2 linked regions of the Homo sapiens genome follow. The protein of the gene in region 1 interacts with the protein of each later gene in a pairwise test. Each region holds a gene or a part of one and is shown on either strand. Other genes may lie near its edges. The genes, in order: ZC3HAV1 and RIGI.

Region 1 (11,195 bases):
CCAGTGATGAACGTTGACTCAGGACCAGGAGATAGTGGACAGCCCCACCTAAAAGTTTTGGGGTTTGGGGGCTACTTTGAGTCCCAGAAGAGAGCCGGGGACTGTCATCCTAGAGCTGATCCTCACTGTCATCCTAGGCCATGGAATGACGTGCTCTGCCGTGCAGGCAGAATGTCAAGATTCTTTCATCAGCTGACACAGTTGGTGAGCACCTGTAGTCTCAGCTACTCAGGAGGCTCAGGTGGGAGGATCGCTGGAGCCCAGGAGTTCGAGCTTGCAGTGAGCTGTGGTCGGGCCACTGCATTCCAGCCTGGGCAACAGAGCAACACTCCATCTCTTAAAACAAAAACAAAAACAAAAAAAACCGTCAGTGTCAAACCACCCATCTTCAAGATTTTTACACATCAGATTACGCCAAGTAATTTGATAGCACTTGGATAGCAAAGCTACAAAAGTGAAGAGGAGGAAGGGTGGTAGGAACTCAGTCACATTAACTCCAATGTTCATTATTTTGTTTCATTTTGGCTTTTTTTCCCCTTAGCTCCTTCTTCACATCGTAGAAACATGGCATATAGGGCTAGAAGCAAGAGTAGAGATCGGTTCTTTCAGGGCAGCCAAGAATTTCTTGCGTCTGCTTCAGCGTCTGCTGAGAGGTCCTGCACACCTAGTCCAGATCAGATCAGCCACAGGGCTTCCCTGGAGGACGCGCCTGTGGACGATCTCACCCGCAAGTTCACGTATCTGGGGAGTCAGGATCGCGCTCGGCCTCCCTCAGGCTCGTCCAAGGCTACTGATCTTGGAGGAACAAGTCAGGCCGGGACAAGCCAGAGGTTTTTAGAGAACGGCAGTCAAGAGGACCTCTTGCATGGAAATCCAGGCAGCACTTACCTTGCTTCCAATTCAACATCAGCCCCCAACTGGAAGAGCCTCACATCCTGGACGAATGACCAAGGCGCCAGGAGAAAGACTGTGTTTTCTCCCACGCTACCTGCCGCCCGCTCTTCTCTTGGCTCTCTGCAAACACCTGAAGCTGTGACCACCAGAAAGGGCACAGGCTTGCTTTCCTCAGACTACAGGATCATCAATGGCAAAAGTGGAACTCAGGACATCCAGCCTGGCCCTCTTTTTAATAATAATGCTGATGGAGTGGCCACAGATATAACTTCTACCAGATCCTTAAATTACAAAAGCACTAGCAGCGGTCACAGAGAAATATCATCACCTAGGATTCAGGATGCTGGACCTGCTTCCCGAGATGTCCAGGCCACTGGCAGAATCGCAGATGATGCTGACCCAAGAGTAGCACTTGTTAACGGTAAATACAAAGGGAAGACACTTTGGGCTAGTACATTTGTTCATGATATACCAAATGGCTCTAGTCAAGTAGTGGATAAAACTACTGATGTAGAAAAAACTGGTGCCACTGGTTTTGGCTTAACAATGGCAGTCAAGGCAGAAAAAGATATGTTACGTACTGGAAGTCAGAGTCTGAGGAACCTGGTCCCCACCACACCTGGGGAATCCACTGCCCCTGCACAAGTCAGCACTCTGCCTCAGTCACCTGCTGCCCTTTCCTCAAGCAACAGAGCTGCAGTCTGGGGGGCCCAAGGGCAGAACTGCACCCAGGTTCCTGTTTCCTCTGCCAGCGAGCTCACAAGGAAGACAACAGGCTCTGCTCAGTGTAAGTCACTGAAGGACAAAGGGGCCTCTGTGTCTTGAGTCTGCAGCAGAGTGGCTATGGCTGGTGGTTTTTCCTTGGATGTTCCCCAGTTCTTAAAGGGTAGAGAGTTAGAGGGTTTTGGTTATGGGGTGGTCTGGTGAGGAGATTGACTAGTGAAGACAGGGAAGGGCCAACCAGTAGAACCACAGGGAATAAACTGCCACATTTATTGACAATAGGAATATTTCAACTATGATTTAAGAAATAAACATAGCTTTCACAGGACTCTGAGGTCCACATTTTTGTTTTATGGAGGGGCTGTCTAGATGCTCATGGGCAAAACATAAATCATAGGAATTTTCTTGAACATGGCCCCCATTTCAGATATTCTTTCCCATTGTGAGACCAAGTGCTTTGATTTTTGGTTTAAACATTAAGATCAGCATACATGCATCCTTTTTTGTTTCATAGATTCTTTATCTGATGTCACAAGTACCACATCTTCTAGGGTGGATGATCATGACTCAGAGGAAATTTGTCTTGACCATCTGTGTAAGGGTTGTCCGCTTAATGGTGAGTAACCTAAGGACTTTTCTGTAAGCTTCCACCTTTTGGCCATTGTAAATAACACTGCTATGAACATGGGTGTGCAAATGCCTTCTGAAAACCCTGCTTTCAATTCTTTTGGATATATACCCAGAAGTGGAGTTGGGGGATCATATAGTACTTCTATGTTTAATTTTTTTTTTTGAGGAACTATTATTCATAGTGGCTATACCATTTTTCTTTCCCACCAGCAATGCACAAGCGTTCAAATTTCTCCACATCCTCACCAACACTTGTTCTTTTTGTGTGTGTTTGTTTGCCTTTTTTGTTTGTTTGTTTTGAGACGGAGTCTCACTCTGTCACCCAGGATGGAGTGCAGTGGTGTAATCTCAGCTCACTGCAACCTCTGCCCCCTGGGTTCAAGTGATTCTCCTGCCTCAGCCTCCCAGGTAGCTGGGGTTACAGGCGTGTGCCACCCCGTCCGGCTAATTTTTGTATTTTTAGTAGAGACGGAGTTTTTGCATGTTGGCCAGGCTGGTCTTGAACTCCTGACCTCAAGTGATCCACCCGCCTCGGCCTTCCAAAGTGCTGGGATTACAGGCATGAGCCACTGTGCCCAGCCACTGTTTGTCTTTGATAGCAGCCATTCTAACAAGTGTGAGGTGTGGACTATAATGAGTGGTTGTGTACTTTTCAGTCAGCCAAGTCTCAAGTAGGGCCACTCTATGGGTGTCCCTGCAGTGTCTAAACCTGTCTTTTTTGTTTGTTTTGAAGTTGTCACACATCTTCATTTTGAATATTTCAAAACAATTTAAACATAATATAAGGCAAATTTTGAAAAACAGAACTATCTTCTGTCTTCCTGTACTGTAGCTTATAACATCAATTCATTCTTCAGCCGGCATTCCTGCAATGGCTGTCTTTTGTATGCCTAGCCCTGTGCCAAATATGTAAGGGGGATGTAAGCTAAACCATAGTGCAGCCTTCTCTTTAGTAAGTTTATAATTAAGGTAGGGCATGAAAACATCCATAAAATGCCAGGCATGGTGGCTTACGCCTGTAATCCCAGAACTTTGGGAGGCTGAGGCAGGTGGATCACTTGAGGCCAGGAGTTCAAGACCAGTCTGGCCATCATGGTGACAACCCATCTCTACTAAAAATACAAAAATTAGCTGGGCGTGGTGGCACATGCCTGTAATCCCAGCTACTAGGGAGACTGAGGCAGGAGAATTTCTTGAACCCGGGAGGTGGAGGTTGCAGTGAGCCAAGACTGCGCCATTGCACTCCAGCCTGGGCGACAGAGTGAGTGAGATTCTGCCTCAAAACAAAAACAAAAACAAACAAAAAATTTGCAAATGGGAAAACTGCGTGAAGTAAGTAAAAACATATAAAAAATTAACCCCCAACTGACTATTGGGTACTGGCTAAAGGAATGCAAAAAATACAAGTCAGATGGGGATGGAGTGAGATTCGTTAAGAGAATCTTTCTGGAAGAGATGAACTGTAGGCCAGGGCTTCAAGGAAATAAAGGCTGTTGCCTCTGCTGGAGAGCATTTTGGCTTCATACACTTGGGGGGGTGCAGAAAGGGTAACTAAATTTCTGGTTACCTCGAATTTCTATCTGGGTGGAGTGACTTTGGGGGCAGTGGGGAATTTTTGTTTCCTTTTCTTTTTCTTTTTTTTTTTTGAGACAGAATTTCACTCTGTCACCCAGGCTGGAGTGCAGTGGGGTGATCTCGGCTCACCGCAACCTCCACCTCCCAGATTCAAGTGATTCTCCTGCCTCAGTCTCCCGAGAAGCTGGGATTACAGGCACCCACTACCATGCCTGGCTAATTTTTGTATTTTTAGTAGAGACAGGATTTCACCATGTTGGCTAGGCTGGTTGTGAACTCCTGGCCTCAAATGATCCGCCTGTTTCGGCCTCCCAGAGTGGTGGGATTACAGATGTGAGCCACCACACTCTGCCTGAATTTTTGTTTTCTGATGAGTCTCCAAGGTAATGAAGGAACCTGGATAATGGACACACAGCAGTGTCAGCTGGTATAGATGGAACCTGTCTGGCAGGGGGCAGGGCAGGCATGGATGGGGAAAGCTGGCAGTGAACTTGACTGAATTGGTTAGAATCCCTGCTCAACAGTCCCTCAGACCCCTTCTTTGTCTTTGTAGGTAGCTGCAGCAAAGTCCACTTCCATCTGCCTTACCGGTGGCAGATGCTTATTGGTAAAACCTGGACGGACTTTGAGCACATGGAGACGATCGAGAAAGGCTACTGTAACCCCGGAATCCACCTGTAAGTTGGTGGCTGTACTCTGGCTTTCAAGAGTCCAACATTATCAAAGGGAAGCATTAGTGCTAGGCTCAGGGGAAAAAGAAAAAAACACTTTTCCATCAGAATCCCATTCGAGTGTGAAATACCTCTTGAGATAAAAAATGGCAAATGCCTGCCGAGTTAATGAAGGAAAACCACAGCTGGGTGGGTTTGAGGTCACACTGAGCCTGGCTAATACCAGAGATCCTGGGAATGTTTGCTAACTCAAATGAAACAAACAGTGACATGATTATTTGTTTAGTTGACAGTTGTCTGTGTCCTGCAAAAAAACACAGTTCAGTGTCCGGCTCGTATCCTGATCAGTTCATCACAGAACTATTAAAAGTACTAAATGATTTAGGACAAAAGAGCCTTTGGCTTAACTTCATAATTTAAAAACACGGTTTGAATAATTTCATATAGTTTTACTGTAGAATTTTGTTGTATACTTTAGCATTTAATACCTCCCTTATGTTTGCTATTTTCTCTAGCAAGGCATCTAAGAGGGTACCTTACATTTCTGCTTCTGGCCGAGCGTGGTTGCTCATGCTTGTAATCCTAGCACTTTGGGAGGCTGAGGCAGGAGGATCACTTGAGCTCAGGAGTTCGAGATCAGCCTGGGCAACATGATGAAACCCTGTCTCTACCAACAATACAAAAACTAGCCAGGCATGGTAGCACGCACCTGTGGTCCCAGCTACTCGCTACTCGGGAGGCTGATGTGAGAGGATCACTGGAGCCCAAGAAGTTGAGGCTGCAATGAGCCGTGATTGTGCTACCACACTCCAGCCTGGGTGACAGAGTGAGACCCTGTCTCAAAAATAAATAAGTAAAAACATTTCTCCTTCTGGAAGAGCTGAAATGGGTGATACCCATATGACCGTATTTATCTATGGTGTGCAGGGATATAAGAAACATCCCAGTTTTATAAGGAAATTCTTAAGGGGGAAAAGTTACATTACTTTTCATCATATGAGAATTTAGTGATTTGAGGGTGGAGATTCTGTGTTGCTGGATTTTTACCACTAGAGGGCGACATGAGCTACTTTCTGGTTGCTAGGTCTATATTTCCGCTCCCAGGCAAGTGGAGAGCCGGGTTTCTCAACCTCAGCACTACTGACGTTTTGGGCCAGATTCTGTTTAGCACTATTCCTAGCCTCAATCCACAGATGACAGGAAGCACCACCCCCCCACCAGCCCCACTGGTTGTCCTAACCCAAAATGTCTTCAGATGTTGTAAAATACCCACTGAGGTCAAAATCGTTCCTGATTGAGAACCACTGATCTAAGAGGTCTTTCTTAGAGCAGCAATTCTCAAACTTTTTGGTCAGAGGACTCCTCAACACTTAAAATGTATTCAGGATCCCAAAGAATTTCTGTTTGTGTGGAATATAGCTATCAATATTTACCATATTAAAAATTAAAACTGAGAACAATTATATATTTGATTCACTTAAAAATAAGAATAAGCTTGCTATATGTTAACATAATGAACATGTTTCATGTAACTATATTTAATACTATATACATATTCATGTATATCCATTTAATATACATACCCAGGTATATAACTGTGTGTATTTATTTACATATTTATATATAATATTTATATGGATAATTATAAAATAACTGTTTTCCAAAACAAAAAATTTATTGAGAGGAGTTTTATATTTTTGCAAATTAATGTCTGGCATAATAGAAGATAACTAGATTCTCATATCCGCTTCTTTATTCAACCTGCTGTGAAATCATATATTGTGTAGCCTCTGGAAAATTTCATCGTGTATTCCTGAGAGAATGAAAGTGAAAAAAGCAAATAATGTTTAATGTTATTATGAAAATCACTTTAACCTTGCCAATTTTCTGCAAGGGTCTCCACATTTTGATAACGATTTAAATAATAATAAATAATTTTAAAAATGGACCAAATGCGAATTTCTAACTTACTTTATAACATTGAGCCAATCAGGAGTTTTGTGGGCACAGTTTTATTTTGGGATATTTTCTGAGGGAAGAATACATTATGTAACACCATTAATTATGTGGTGCAGGCGAGTCACTTTCCTCTCTGCGTTTCCGTTTTTCTTTTATGTGTAGGACCTGGAGCCATGGAAAGAAAACTTGAAGATCTATTTTAGCCCTGAAAGTTTAATTCTGTGCTCTCATTAGGGAAGACGAGATTGTAGAAAACAGGGGTCAATGAAGCATTATGTTAACTTAATACTTTTCTCTCTCAGCTGTTCTGTAGGAAGTTATACAATCAATTTTCGGGTAATGAGTTGTGATTCCTTTCCCATCCGACGCCTCTCCACTCCTTCTTCTGTCACCAAGCCAGCCAATTCTGTCTTCACCACCAAATGGATTTGGTATTGGAAGAATGAATCTGGCACATGGATTCAGTATGGAGAAGAGGTGAGCACTGTTCCTCCTTGTAGGGGGCTCTTGTTTAAACTTGTCAACTTAAAAAGAACACTGTTGGCTGGGCACGGTGGCTCATGCCTGTAAGCCCAGCACTTTGGGAGGCTGAGGCAGGTGGATCACCTGAGATCAGGAGTTCGAGACCAGCCTGGCCAACATGGTGAAACCCCATCTCTATTAAAAATACAAAAATTAGCCAGGCGTGGTGGCAGGCGCCTATAATCCCCGCTACTCTGGAGGCTGAGGCAGGAGAATCTCTTGAACCCGGGAGGTGGAGGTTGTAGTGAGCTGAGATTTCGCCACTGCATTCCAGCCTGGGGGATGGATTGAGACTCTGTCTCCAAAATAAATAAATAAATAAAATAAAAAGAACACTATTAATAAAATGTTTGAAGCCTACATGGTTACCCGTGGAGTGTGGTAGAGGAAGTGGTATTTTTTTACTTTGTACACAGCTATATTCAATTTTTTTTCAGCAAACATGTACTCCAATTGCAGTCATACATTAAAGTATATATTAATTTTTATTTTTATTTATTTATTTATTTTTGAGATGGAGTTTCACTCTTATCACCCATGCTGGAGTGCAATGGCGTTATCTTGGCTCACTGCAACCTCCATCTCCTGGGTTCAAGCGATCTTCCTGCCTCAGCCTCCCGAGTAGCTGGGATTACAGGCATGCACCACCACCACACCCAGCTAATTTTTGTATTTTTAGTAGACATGGGGTTTCAACATGTTGGACAGGCTAGTCGTGAACTCCTGACCTCAGGTTATCCGCCCACCTCGGCCTCCCAAAGTGTTGAGATTACAGACGTGAGCCACTGCGCCCGGCCATATATTAATTATTTTTAAGGAACCGCTTGAGACATGTCAGCTGCACTTCCCTCTTTCCTCACCATGAGAGGGGAGGGTGGAACCTTGAGATAGCTTTCTATGTATAAACACATAAAATGTACAGAGACTACTGCTTTGAGCTGGAAAAGAGGGTGAGAGTGAGAACTTAAAGGACTGTATGGATGATGGCATGGTTAATTAGACCAGGGAATGTGTTAATTCACTCAAGCAGTGAAACCACATCTGGTACAGATAGTCACTACTATTCATTCAGAGTCTGGATTTAGATGGACTTAAAGGACTGGAACTAGAAGATCCTAGGCTGACCCATAGTGGGGGCATAGTAATAGGGAGGGAAGTTTAGGTGAGCAGAGCCTCTGTCCTTCTGTCTCAGTGTCCCTTCCTCCCTTTAACTCATAGGATTAAAGAGAGAGAGAAAACAGACCTTAAGCAGGTAATGGAATCAGGGTGATGAGAAACAGAAAATGAAAGCAAGAGATTAAAATGAAGCCAAAAATAATGCATGGGCTGGGTGCGGTGGCTCACTCCTGTAATCCCAGCACTTTGGGAGGCCGAGGTGGGGTGGATCACCTGAAGTCAGGAGTTCGAGACCAGCCCGGCCAACATGGTGAAACCCTGTCTCTACTAAAAATACAAAAAATTAGCTGGGTGTGGTGGCGCGTGCTTGTAATCCCAGCTACTCAGGAGTCTGAGGCAGGAGAATCGCTTGAACCTGCAGGCAGAGGTTGCAGTGAGCCGAGATTGCACCACTGCACTCCAGTCTGGGTGACAAAAGTGAGATTCCAAAAAAAAAAAGATAATGCAGGGACAAAGGAATGGCAGCGTAAGGTTCTACATATTTAGGTTGGTGTAAAATTACTTTTGGGTTGGTGGTAATTACTTTTAATGGCAAAAACTGATTACTTTTGCACGGAACTAATAATTACGAGTCAGTGGGCTATACATTTGGCTCTGAGCTGCCTAACTGCCAAAGCAAACAAAATACTTGGGAGAGGCACTACTCTGTTATGTTAGTGAGGCCTGAGAAAAACACCTCCTATAGTGGGCCACATGGCGGGAACCCTGTGTGCTGTGGTGAGGTCCTCAACCACAAACAGCCCTACCATGAATTCAGCAGCATATTGGTTTCCAAACTGTCTTAGCAGCAGATACATTTTATCAAACCATCTTTCAAAGACTCTAAACGAGCCAACTAGAGTAGAGCAGGGCTGCCCTGGTGGAATAGGATATGGGCTCAGAGCTGTCTCCTGGACCCCTCCTTGTTGCTCTTCTCTCTCCTGTGGTGGCCCATGTAGCATCTCTGTGGAACAGAGTTCTGCTGAAACTCCCGTGTGTGTGAAAACACCTATGATATTAAACTTTGCACAGATTCTTTGTATGCTCAAGCCAAGGATGATGTCAAATAAGCGATTCTGTCAGGCGCCTGTGGAAATAAAATTATAAACCCAAATTAATTAGCCTTGGTTAAAATAAAAATAAGCTATAGGTCTTGATGGTTTTTATGTCAAATAATTGGAATTTTTAGTAAGATATAAAGGGGAAGGGTTGGCAAACAAACATTTGCATTCTAGTTACATCAAGGTTCCAGGAGGCCGGGCGTGGTGGCTCATGTCAGTAATCCCAGCACTTTGGGAGGCCAAGGCGTGTGGATCACCTGAGGTCAGGAGTTCAAAACCAGCCTGGCCAACATGGTGAAACTGTGTCTCTATTAAAAATACACACAGAAAATTAGCTGGGCTTGGTGGCGTGCACCTGTAATTCCAGCCACTTGGGAGGCTGAGGCAGGAAAATTGCTTGAACCAAGGAGGTAGGGGTTGCAGTGACCCGAGACTGTGCCACTACGCTCCAGCCTGGGTGACAGAGTAAGACTCCAAAAAAAAAAAAAAAAGGTTTCAGAAACCAAAAGGAACTATTTGGGGGAAAGATACTGTATTTAAATTTAAATTTACACAAGTTCAATCATGTTCTCTAATAAAACATCAAGAAACTTCCTGAGCTTTTTTTTTTTTGAGACAGAGTTTTGCTCTTGTTACCCAGGCTAGAGTGCAATGTTGTGATCTCGGCTCACTGCAGCCTCTGCCTCCCAGGTTCAAGCAATTCTCCTGCCTCAGCTTCCCCAGTAGCTGGGATTACAGGCATCCACCACCATGCCTGGCTAATTTTTTGTATTTTTAGTTGAGACGGGGTTTCACCATGTTGGCCAGGCTGGTCTTGAACTCCTGACCTCAGGTGATCTGCCTGCCTCTGCCTCCCAAAGTGCTGGGATTACAGGTGTAAGCCACCGCACCCAACCCAGCCCTTCCTGAGGTTTTTTTTTTTTTTTTTTTTGAGACGGAGTCTCGCTCTGTCGCCCAGGCTGGAGTGCAGTGGCGCGATCTCGGCTTACTGCAAGCCCCGCCTCCCGTGTTCACGCCATTCTCCTGCCTCAGCCTCCCAAATAGCTGGGACTACAGGCGCCCGCCACCGCGCCCAGCTAATTTTTTATATTTTTAGTAGAGACGGGGTTTCACCATGTTAGCCAGGATGGTCTCGATCTCCTGACCTCGTGATCTGCCCGCCTCAGCCTCCCAAAGTGCTGGGATTACAGATGTGAGCCACTGCGCCCGGCCTCCTGAGGTTTTTAATACAAAGTTCTCGCTGGGACATTTAGTCTGTGTTAGCTGTAGAGTTTTTATTTTATTTATTTTTATTTTTATATTCTGGATTCCCATGAAAACTGTGGAGTTTTTAGAATGTAACATTCAATCTGCAAACACATGAATGTTGTATTCATTAAATGTGACACAGGTTTGTTGGATGTTCACTGAAGATGTGAATGAACTCTTACTGTCTCATACTAATAAGACCCATCATTATATAAATTGAATTGGCTCTAGTTATTAAAAAAAAAAATAAGGAAAAATCAGGCCCTGGGTTTAATGTTTTCCTTGCTGGGAGTCCAAGTAAAATTAAAATAATGTTTCCAGGAGATTTGAACCCCACATATCAAGAACAGCCTGGTTTCTTTCATGGATCAATGCATTGTGGTCCAAGTTTGCAGCTCTTTGGTGACCTGCCTTGAGCCAGCGTACAGGCTAGAATATTTAGAGAAAGGAGTGGACTGTGAAGCCTTCTGCCAGTGCCCCACAGCTTTTATTTCTTGTAACTGAATTTTGAATAAGTCAGGCAACTAAGAGTTGTGGGTTGGAACCTCCCTAAGAGGAACGTGAGGAGTAGAAACTTCTGCCAACAGAGTAGGCACATATGCTTTGATTATGAGCTCTCAGGGAGGTAAAATAGATATCCTTTTATGGAAATTGATGTACTTAACCAGGACTCATACCTACATAGATGGTGGGCAGGGAGAGGGTGTGGTATTAGGAGAAGTGATGATTGAATCGATGGGCAGTTGGGCAGCAATGG
Region 2 (11,195 bases), on another chromosome or scaffold:
AACTGTTTGGTAATTTTGCTCCTTTTGTATTCCAGAAGTGTCTGATACAAACTTGTACAGCCCATTTAAACCAAGAAATTACCAATTAGAGCTTGCTTTGCCTGCTATGAAAGGAAAAAACACAATAATATGTGCTCCTACAGGTAAGCCTATTGCCATTACTTACATAGTTTTTCTGTTTGCTTCCTTTTTTTTCTTTTGTTGAATACTGGGACAGAATGGGCAAGTTTCAGTTTTTTCCTTGTTCCATGTGTCTTTTGAGAAAACTGTCCTAATATAATCCTAATGTTTTTTATGGGATTATGTAATTAATTAATTATGTACATTAATGTATTTAATGTATTTTCTTTACCTTTCATGAGAAGGTAAAGAAAAGTGTCCTCTTTTAGCTTGCTTTTGGGTCCTGGCTGTTGGCATGCTACTTAGGGAGCAGCTTGATATTTTTTAGTCATAGTGTAAATTCTGTAATCATTAACATATTTAAATTATCAATTAATTAGTCAGCTCAGTGGTATTAGAAGAGCCAAAAATAAACACCTTTCCAGAGAAATATCTAATATATGAGTTACATGTTTTCTTTTTTCCTTACATGTTAAAAGGTTGTGGAAAAACCTTTGTTTCACTGCTTATATGTGAACATCATCTTAAAAAATTCCCACAAGGACAAAAGGGGAAAGTTGTCTTTTTTGCGAATCAGATCCCAGTGTATGAACAGCAGAAATCTGTATTCTCAAAATACTTTGAAAGACATGGGTAGGTATAATAGTTGCTTCAACTTCTTTTTCTCCAGCTTCATGTAATTGATGTGTTTTCTGTTTTGTTTTTGACAAATGATTTAAAAAAATTTATATTAGATTCAGCTTTTTTATAATCCAGATGTTATCCCTTCATGGATTCAAGTCTTTTTTGTTAGATGTACCAGAAAACTTAAACTCCCCTGGTTTGCCCTTCTATGGGGAGTAAATGACTTCAGGAATAAATTTGATGTTTACGTGGCACATTTAACTTCTTTAGTGATTTTATAATTTATTTGATATTATTCTTTTACGTACTCTTTTCTCTCTTAGTGACTTAAAATAATATATAGTACTATAAATTACAACTAGCTTGGATTTATTGATCTCTTACTATGTGTCAGGCTCTGTGCTAAGGACTTGCCTACAGCTATTCTTCTTTTGGACTCAGGGAGAATTTAATCAGTTGATGTTCTGATCTAGCATTTCATCTTTGTGGTTCCTTATCCACATCGTGGTTAGTAATATGGAATTTCTGTCATTTCCCAGGTATAGAGTTACAGGCATTTCTGGAGCAACAGCTGAGAATGTCCCAGTGGAACAGATTGTTGAGAACAATGACATCATCATTTTAACTCCACAGATTCTTGTGAACAACCTTAAAAAGGGAACGATTCCATCACTATCCATCTTTACTTTGATGATATTTGATGAATGCCACAACACTAGTAAACAACACCCGTACAATATGATCATGTTTAATTATCTAGATCAGAAACTTGGAGGATCTTCAGGCCCACTGCCCCAGGTATCTCCAAAGTCAGACGAATGCTTCAGAAGAGCTATAATCTTCCTAACTCCTATTTTCTTACTCTTATGGCCACACTGAAGATGTCCTTCTCAGGTCCCAAGTCCATATTGTACAACTCATTATGAATTTTGTTTCCTTTATTCATTTGTTCACTTAGTAAATATGCATTATGTGCCTCCATGTGCCATACACTGTGTGTTAGTAAAAACAAAAAAACGCCCTACCCCAGCAGGAAAGAGTTATATGAGGGGTTGTGGAAACATTGTACCATTTCTCAGACATCTAATGATTTTGAATGCTCCTTACAGGTCATTGGGCTGACTGCCTCGGTTGGTGTTGGGGATGCCAAAAACACAGATGAAGCCTTGGATTATATCTGCAAGCTGTGTGCTTCTCTTGATGCGTCAGTGATAGCAACAGTCAAACACAATCTGGAGGAACTGGAGCAAGTTGTTTATAAGCCCCAGAAGTGTAAGTTGGATCCAATAACAAGCCTTTGAGATTCTGTTACTCTCTACTACCTCTAGTTCAGAGCCATCTAGACGAATACTGAACTTTGACCCTCTCTCTGTTTAGTAGAAAATATTTAACCTTGAACTTGAGTAACAGTCACATTTTTTAGCCTCTCTAACTGAGCTCTCATCCCAAGCAATGGATGAACCTCAGAAGTGGCCTGTAGAGAGCAAACATTCTTCCTCTTTGCTTCCAAAAACCTCTTATAAATGTACTAGCAATGCAAAAGAGGTGATGAGAGAATTTAGGCATCAGATAGCCAAGAGCTGGGCTCACTCAGCCTTTTCCCATGCTCTGTGCCTGTGTGGTCATCACTGTTTGAATATGTATTTGATCATTTTAGTTGAAATGGAATGATCTGAATTCATGATGTCACTCCTCCAAAGATCAGATATGATTTTTTAATATGACTAACAGTTGTTTATTGATGTTATTATTACACTAACCCTGAAAGGAAGAGAGGGATACAGAAAATATATATGACTTCACCCTTGCTCTCTGAGTAGTATGTGACTGTATTTCTGAGGTAGAACAAATAGACATGTAATAGGGAGTGGTGTAGATAAGTTCCTTTTTGAAGGCTGCTTGTAAGTAAGGATTTTGATGTACCTGATCCCAACTTTTCAGTGTCACATATGAATTTCTTTACAATCCGGTTCCTCCTGCCCTCTGAGCTTCATCACCTCCAAACATTCATAAACCCAACCATGTTGCATTCCTCTGGGCTCCTCAATCATGCCGTGTGCTTTCTCTCTCCCACCTTTTGTCTGTGCTTCCTTTGTACATCACTGCTCTTTTTTTTTTTTCTTTTTCTTTGCCAAGTTGTGATGGAATATACATGACTACTCTTGCTTTCTTCTTTCTTCTTCCTGTATTTATTCTACAACTCTGACTTCCCTGGAAGAATTAGGTGTTACTTTCCCTGTGTTTTGTGACACTTTGCGTGTACTACTTCTTTTTTTTTTTTTTTTTTTTGAGACAGAGTCTCGTGCTGTTGCCCAGGCTGGAGTGCAGTGGTGCGATCTCGGCTCACTGCAAACCTCCACCTCCTGGGTTCAAGTGATTCTCCTGCCTCAGTCTCCTGAGTAGCTGGAATTACAAGCGTGTGCCATCACGCCTGGCTAATTTTTTGTATTTTTAGTACAGACAGGGTTTCACCATGTTGGCCAGGCTGGTCTTGAATTCCTGACCTCAAGTGATCCACCCTCCTCGGCCTCCCAAAGTGTTAGGATTACAGGTGTGAGCCACCACACCCGGCTACACTTTACATGTACTTCTGTTAGAGAACTGCTACGGTTAGTTAGCCATGTATATTTCTCTCCCTTAAGATCACAGCCCTGTATGGAGCATGAAGTGTGTTCTTTCAACTGTCTATAATCAAAGCATGGCACATTGCAGGCAATTAATAATTAGGCTGAAATAATATATTGATAAATGGTAGGATCAGTGTGAATACTGCTGGGAGCTGTGTGGGGAGGGAGAATATCAAAGCACAGAGACAGGGTTAGATTGTGGCACTTGCAGAGACATGAGAGATGCCCGCCTCATCAGAGAGGAGGTAACAGGACAGCCACAGTAAGAAGCTGGTTAGGCCGGGTGCGGTGGATCACGCTTGTAATCCCAGCACTTTGGGAGGCCAAGGCGGGTGGGTCACCAGCTCAGGAGTTCGAGACCAGCCTGGCCAATATGGTGAAGCCCCGTCTCTACTAAAAATACAAAAATTAGCTGGGCATGGTGGTGTGCGCCTGTTGTCCCAGCTACTTGGGAGGCTGAGGCAGAAGAATCACTTGAACCTGGGAGACGGAGGTTGCAGTGAGCCGAGATCGCGCCACTGTACTCCAGCCTGGGTGACACAGTGAGACTTGGTCTCAATCAAAAAAAAAAAAAAAAAAAAAAAGAAGCTAGTTAGACCTACACCATGAAAGACAGGTGTTAGAATCAGTACAAGAAGCAACAGGGAGCCATTGCATTTTGAGCATTTGTTGTATCATCTGGACCACCTGCCAGTTAGCCTGGAACCTTAGGTTTTTCAGAGGAAGTATCAAAGGCAGAGAAAGGTTTTAGAGATACCTACTTTGAACTACAATCTGTCCTTCCTGAAAATATACTCACTCTTTTTTTCTTTTTCTTTTTTTTTTGACGTCTCTAGTTTTCAGGAAAGTGGAATCACGGATTAGCGACAAATTTAAATACATCATAGCTCAGCTGATGAGGGACACAGAGAGTCTGGCAAAGAGAATCTGCAAAGACCTCGGTGAGATAAATCTCATATTTTGTGTTCTCTCTACTGGGGAATAGCCATTTATTGTTCACTATCGTCTTTTTGTGTTCTCCTTAGTTCAGACAATGTCAAGACCATATCCAGAGGTTGTCTTCCTTGATTATAGGTTATTTAGGAGCCTTATATGTCCTCCTCTATTCTTTCTTTCTTCCTTTTTTTCCTTTTAAATCCAAAGTAAGTTCATCCAGACACATGCACCTGAAAAATAACCATACTTAAGTCAGTTCATTGCTTTCTCTACCTTCTAAATCAGCTTTCCCTCCTGACTTTCCTGTTCACCTGAATGAAACCACCATTCCTCTACTGGCTCAGATTTATATCTAGGGACAATCACCCAGCACATTTCCCAGCATTAAAGGAGTGCGACTAGAGATGGGCCAGGGGAAGACAGTGAAGGGCCTGGATTTGAATTTTATCCTAAAAACAATGGGGAAAAAAGTGAAGATTAAAACTGATTAGTGACGTAATAAAGATACCAGTGAATGAGAAGGACCAAAGAGAGGCAGTAGAGATGGATTGGAGAAGGAAGGAGACACATGTGAGATGCTTCCAACTGTGAGTGTTATGATTGAATGGCTAAACGGATTTGGGTGGGGATGAGAAAGGGGCAGGAGGGGCTGATTTCCCCCCAGGCATCTGGCTTAGGCACCTCTATGAATGCCAGTGGGTGGTCCTGGTACCAGGACTAGAAGCAGCCTTGGCAGGTACAAGGTTTTGAGTTTTGAGTTTTAGGGATGTTAAATGTGACGTCTGTAAGACACCTCATGGAGTGTCTCCTCTCACACTTATTTTGCTTTTCTCTCCCCTTTTCTTTCACAGTTTAATTTCTATTATAATTGTTCTAACAGCCTTCTAGCTGATTTTGCCTACCTCTGCTCTCTCTTCCATTCAACCTCTCATGAACTAGTTAGTCTTCATGAATACATTTTATCATGTCCCTGTCCTGCTTAAAAACCCTTTGCCTACAGGATAATCTTCACGCCTCTAACCTGCAGTCTGAGCCCTGCCTGAACACCCAGGTTCTACTTATCTTTCCAATGTTATATTCTACTACTTCCCTACCTGAATCCTTTTGATTTAGCAGTTTCCCGAATGTGTTCATGCATATGTTCATTCATTTAGTGCTAAGGAATGGGCTAGGTGATGGGAATACAGCATGAACCCTAAGATACAGCCCCTGGCCTCAGGGCATTTCTAGTCTGATGGTAAGACCAAAATTAGAGAAGTAATACTAATACTAAAGCAGCTGGTGTGGTGGGGGTGATAAGGTGTGTTTCAGGCACAGGGAATAGCATATGCAAAGGCCAGGAGACTAGAAAGAGTATAGGGACTTCCATTAGTCCTGTAGAATGCTGAAAGGAGAGTGGCCAGAAATGAGAAGCAAAAGCAAGCAGAGGCCAGAGCATGGGGAGGAGTGTGTGAGCTGGGGCAGGATTTTGGCTGCAGGACCACTAAAGGCTTTTAAGCAGTGGGGTGGGATGATTTCTCATCTGCAATTTTGCAAACTCCCTCTAACCACTGGGTAGAGTATGGGTTAGAGGGAACAAGGCAAGAGGAAGGGAGACCAGTTTGGAGATTGTCATATTATCCAGCAGCACACTGATGTGGTTTGAATTGGGGAAGTAGCAGAAGGATGGAGAGACGGTGATGGAGTCACGTGAGTTTCTATTTTCTTACTCCTCCCACCTCCCGTACCCTGCCTCCACCTTTTTGCCAGTCCGAATCCAGTTAGCTGCTCATCTCTAAACTGCTTAGGCTATTTTTACACCTACCCAGGTTCAATCAGTACCTGTTGGCTCATCTTCTTTACTGCTGGCCACCTCGCTGTAGCTGCAACTTGGAAAGAAGCATGTCAATACTACTTGTTTGGGTAGCCTCCTTTGTTCCTATTATTGAAAATGAATGAGTGAGGGGAAGAATTTAACCCAGAAATACAGCTCTTGCTTGTGACTTTTGTTGTACTGTGCTCTTCATGAGGAGCCCTGGCGAACTGATACCAGAGTAACTCACAGACTCAGCTGCTTGAGAACACAGCCATAGTCTCCTCATCTTATCCCCAGCACCCTACACAGAGCCTGGACCACAGCAGATGCCCCAGCTTTGAACCAAGCAACTGAGGCTTATCCTAGGAGATGCACACAGACAGATGCATGTGTGATAAGTGTCTTTTGAGGGCCGATTCTATGCTTGGCCCTGAGAATGCTGCTCTGGAGAACAGGAGGCCCAAGTTCACAGCAAAGCAGAACATAGGGTGAACTGAGTCCTAAATCTCCTCCTTGATTTTTTTTTTTTTTAAGAGTCTCACTCTGTCGCCAGGCTGGAGTACAGTGACGTGATCTCGGTTCACTGCAACCTCCGTCTCCTGGGTTCAAGCGATTCTCCTGCCTCAGTCTCCTAAGTAGCTGGGACTTCAGGTGCGTGCCACCACCCCCAGCTAATTTTTGTATTTTTAGTAGAAACGGGGTTTCACCCTGTTGGCCAGGGTGATCTCAATCTCTTGACCTCGTGATCCACCCGCCTGGGGCTCCCAAAGTGCTGGGATTACAGGCATGAGCCACTGCGGCCGGCCAATCTCCTGCTTTTATATATCCTCCTCTGATGAAGCTCTTGAGACCTGTTATTTTTACTTCTTCATTTTTAAAGGCAAAGTTGGGTTTTTCATGTCTACTGTTTTATTTCTGGGCTGCTTTGGTTGTCAGCTCATAGAGCCAGTAGAGCTTGGGCATCTGACACATGTGGGTTTGAATTCCTGCCCTTTCTCCACGTACTTGCTGTGTGACTATGGGTAAATTACTTATTACTTGGCTTTTCTGAACTTCAGTTTCCCAATATATGAAATGTAATATGTATCTCATGGGTTGTGAAAATTAAATGAAATTATGAATGTAAGGTACTTTGATTCTTGGTACACAGTACTCAAGAAACAATCAAACACACACACACACACACACACACACACAAACAAACACACAGATGCACTGCTTAAAACTCAAGGGAGGGAACAAGGCAAGAGGTAGGGAGAACAGTTTGGAGGTTGTCATATTATCCAGCAGCACAGTGGTGTTATCTCAATGGGGGAAGGAGCAGAAGGATGGAGAGATGGTGATGGAGTCACATGAGTTTCTATTTTCTTACTCCTCCCACCTCAGGTACCCTGCTTCCACCTTTTCACCAGTCTGAATCCAGTTAAATAGTTTTAACTAGATGACTTAAGACTATTTCAGGAGGAATATCCTGTTTGCAGAGAGTAAGAAAGAAAATTAGGCCAGGTGCAGTGGCTCACGCCTGTAATCCCAGCACTTTGGGAGACCGAGGCAGGCGGATCACCTGAGGTCAGGAGTTTGAAACCAGCTTGACAACATGGTGAAACCCTGTCTCTACTAAAAATACAAAAATTAGCCAGGCGTGATGGCACACGCCTGTAGTCTCAGCTACTTAGCAGGCTGAGGCAGGAGAATCGCTTGAATCCGGGAGGTGGAGGTTGCGGTGAGCCAAGATCGTGCCATTGTACTACAGCCTGGGCATCAGAGCGAGACTCTGCCTCGAGGAAAAAAAAAAAGAAAAAGAAAATTAGAGGGTGAGGCCTGTTTATAACCCTAAATGACTGACCATATGAGACAGTGAAAAACTTTTTTTTTTTTTTTTAACAGAAAACTTATCTCAAATTCAAAATAGGGAATTTGGAACACAGAAATATGAACAATGGATTGTTACAGTTCAGAAAGCATGCATGGTGTTCCAGATGCCAGACAAAGATGAAGAGAGCAGGATTTGTAAAGCCCTGTTTTTATACACTTCACATTTGCGGGTACGTTCCTCTTTTTAAGAGTCGTATTCTGGTCACAGCACCTACTGGGAGTGGCACCGTGGAAGCCAAGATAACATCAACTTCTCATCCTGTCCTCAAGAGCTCACTTAGGAACCTTTCCAGAAAGTTCTTATGAAGCAAACTCCAAAAGTTGTCCCATTCAACATCATCTCGATTTCCTTTCTGAAATTTCATACTGCAGGCAACAGGACTGAAATAAAGGCTCAGATTCTATGCCATGCCTCTAGCATTAACTGACATGGTTGGAAAAAATTGGGTGATTGTGAGAGAACATTATTCCAGATACAAGACCAGTCCAGTGACAGCATCTTGAAAGCTCAGCAAGTGGAAAGTTCTGTTGCTATGTCCTGAAGCACACATTTCTTCACCTTTGGTGACGCCCCATGCTCAGAAATCCAGGTTCTCTGGCTCACCAAGAAGTTAAGGAACTATAGTGACAGCTATCACCTCTGCTTATCCAGCCATTGAAAATATATTAAAATGCATTCAATTAGCATGCATTTGTAGAATTTTAGTTAGCTTAGTTGTACATTTGATGGATGTGGTCAGGGCCATCATTTTGGAAGGTACACTGACAATTTAGTGATGGCTTCAGATGTATATAGAAATCAAGTGAAATGTTGGAATTATGAGGCAGGTTGATGTGGAAGTTGATTTACTTTCCTTATTTTTAAATTTTGATATGTGTTTTTCGTGCAGTTTTTCTTTTCTAAGGTAAAATTCAATAATCCAAAGTGATGATAATTAATGTTACTAGCTAATTGAGTTTTCTTTTAACAGTATTTGGTTCAAAGATTTTGTTACATAACTGTTAGAGGCCATTCATCTTTAAAAAGCTAAGTTGGAATAGATTTGAAAAGAAAAGTTTTCTTAAAACAATTCGTTAAATACAACGAATTGAACTTAAATACAGTGAATGTGTTAGACATTGGAAGCATATTGAGACAGTTTTTACTTTCAACAGAAATATAATGATGCCCTCATTATCAGTGAGCATGCACGAATGAAAGATGCTCTGGATTACTTGAAAGACTTCTTCAGCAATGTCCGAGCAGCAGGATTCGATGAGATTGAGCAAGATCTTACTCAGAGATTTGAAGGTGAGTGGTGTTTTCAGAGGAGGAAGCCACAGTAGCATTCTTGGTGACTGGAATGGCAAAACAAACATGTATTGCATTTAATATATATAAACTTGGGGATGCTTAGGGAGTTGTCCTGGATGTAGGAAGATGGAGATGGTAGGACTATTTAGCTTCAATGAAATCTAGTACCTATGGGAAGAGTCTGTTGCTTATACCATTCCCTATTTAGAAGAAGGAAAAACAAGATTTGCAAAGGGTGTTTCCCATATGGTTCACAGACAGTAGCATTCTTTTTGTTTAACGTTCTTTTTTAGTAATTTTATAAAGCTTTAAAAATATGAAAAAGTGTTTTAACGATATTAAAAAAACCATAATTTATGTATACTTTTTTTTTTTTTTTGAGATGGAGTCTTGCTTTGTCGCCCAGGGTCAAGTGCAGTGGCTCAATCATGGCTCACTGCAACCTCTGCCTCCCGGATTCAGGCAATTCTCATGTCTCAGCCTCCCGAGTAGCCAGGACTGCAGGTGTGCGCCACCACACCCGGCTAATTTTTGTATTTTTAGTAGAGATGGAGTTTTGCCATGTTGGCCAGATTGGTCTCAAACTCCTGACCTCAAGTGATCCACCCGTCTCTGCCTCCCAAAATGCTGGAATTACAGGCATGAGCCACTGTGCCTGGCCTATATATATTTTTACATAAAGAGGAAACCAAAATGGCACATAATCTCACTGCCTGCATATGATTAAAAAATAGATATTAAACAAACAAAAAAAAGTTTTCCTTCTCCCTGTTTTGAATTCTTTCCCAAAGGTAATTAGTGCTAATAATTTTGGGGTTTTTTTGGCCTCTACCTAAGTATTTACTGTACATATGTGTAACCAGTGCTGTGCTGGTTAATATTTAACAACCCACTAGAGAAAAAATGTATGCATATATATGTACATAAGCTTATTATTTTATTGATATAGAGGAGTTATACAAACCACAATTTATAAATAAAAATAAACTATTCTTTATTGTAAATTCCACATAGCCAATTGGTTCTCATAGAATGCTTTTGGTGGTTTTTGCAGATTTTTTGTATCCATGGCCAACCAAGGGTTGCAATGACAAAGAAGTGTGGTTCTTTCTGATATGGTTGTTGGTATATAGTTTCATTAATGTTAGAAGATAAAGATGAAACAACAAAGGTGTATGTTGGAACTTCACTCGTTTGCCAGTGATGCAAGCAATTTTTTGCTGAACTGTATAATAGTTTTTCAAAAACTGGGAGAATGTTTCTCAATATTTTGTGCTATTCAATGTAATAGCTAAATTTAATCTGTATTATTATTTTTTGATCATGTTCATAAGTCTAAACTCTCAACATAAATTAAGCCGGGCATGGTGGCTCACACTTGTCACCATGGCACTTTGGGAGGCTGAGGTGGGTGGATTACTTGAGCTCAGGAGCTGGAGATCAGTCTGGGCAGCATGGCGAAACCCCATCTCTACAAAAAATACAAAAATTAGCTGAGCATAGTGGTATGCTCCTGTGGTCCCAGCTCCTTGGGAGGCTGAGGTGGGAGGATCACCTGAGCCTGGAAGGCAGACGTTGCAGTGAGCCGAGATTGCACCACTGGACCCCAGCTTGGGTGGTAGAGTGAGTCCTTATCTCAATCAATCAGTCAATCAATAAAGCACTGATTTTTTGTGTTTTCTTGATTTCCATGGTATAACTGCTCCCACTGTAGTGAATTCCAGGCTACCAACATGATGTCATTGAACTAGTGTTAAAAAGAGATGAGCAGCAGCACATCATTCTATAGTATTTCTACCATATAGATAACAATAGGTGTAACTAACCTCAAAAGCGTAGATAATTGTAAAAAGTAATAAAATTTAACAATTGGCCAGGCATGGTGGCTCACACCTGTAGTGCCAGCACTTTGGGAGGCTGAGAT

The links.
Region 2: the proteins of ZC3HAV1 (region 1) and RIGI interact in binary tests that used the Homo sapiens proteins (3 or more experiments, as listed by UniProt).

The regions. Positions count from the first base shown.
Region 1 is NC_000007.14:139,069,590-139,080,784, reverse strand, and holds part of ZC3HAV1 (zinc finger CCCH-type antiviral protein 1), read left to right. Parts: intron 1-541; coding exon 542-1,315; coding exon of another isoform or gene 1,316-1,681; intron 1,682-2,131; coding exon 2,132-2,233; intron 2,234-4,375; coding exon 4,376-4,499; intron 4,500-6,754; coding exon 6,755-6,929; intron 6,930-11,195.
Region 2 is NC_000009.12:32,478,292-32,489,486, reverse strand, and holds part of RIGI (antiviral innate immune response receptor RIG-I), read left to right. Parts: intron 1-35; coding exon 36-143; intron 144-599; coding exon 600-753; intron 754-1,283; coding exon 1,284-1,542; intron 1,543-1,853; coding exon 1,854-2,016; intron 2,017-4,207; coding exon 4,208-4,312; intron 4,313-4,343; exon of another isoform or gene 4,344-7,989; coding exon 7,990-8,147; exon of another isoform or gene 8,148-9,132; coding exon 9,133-9,268; exon of another isoform or gene 9,269-9,315; intron 9,316-11,195.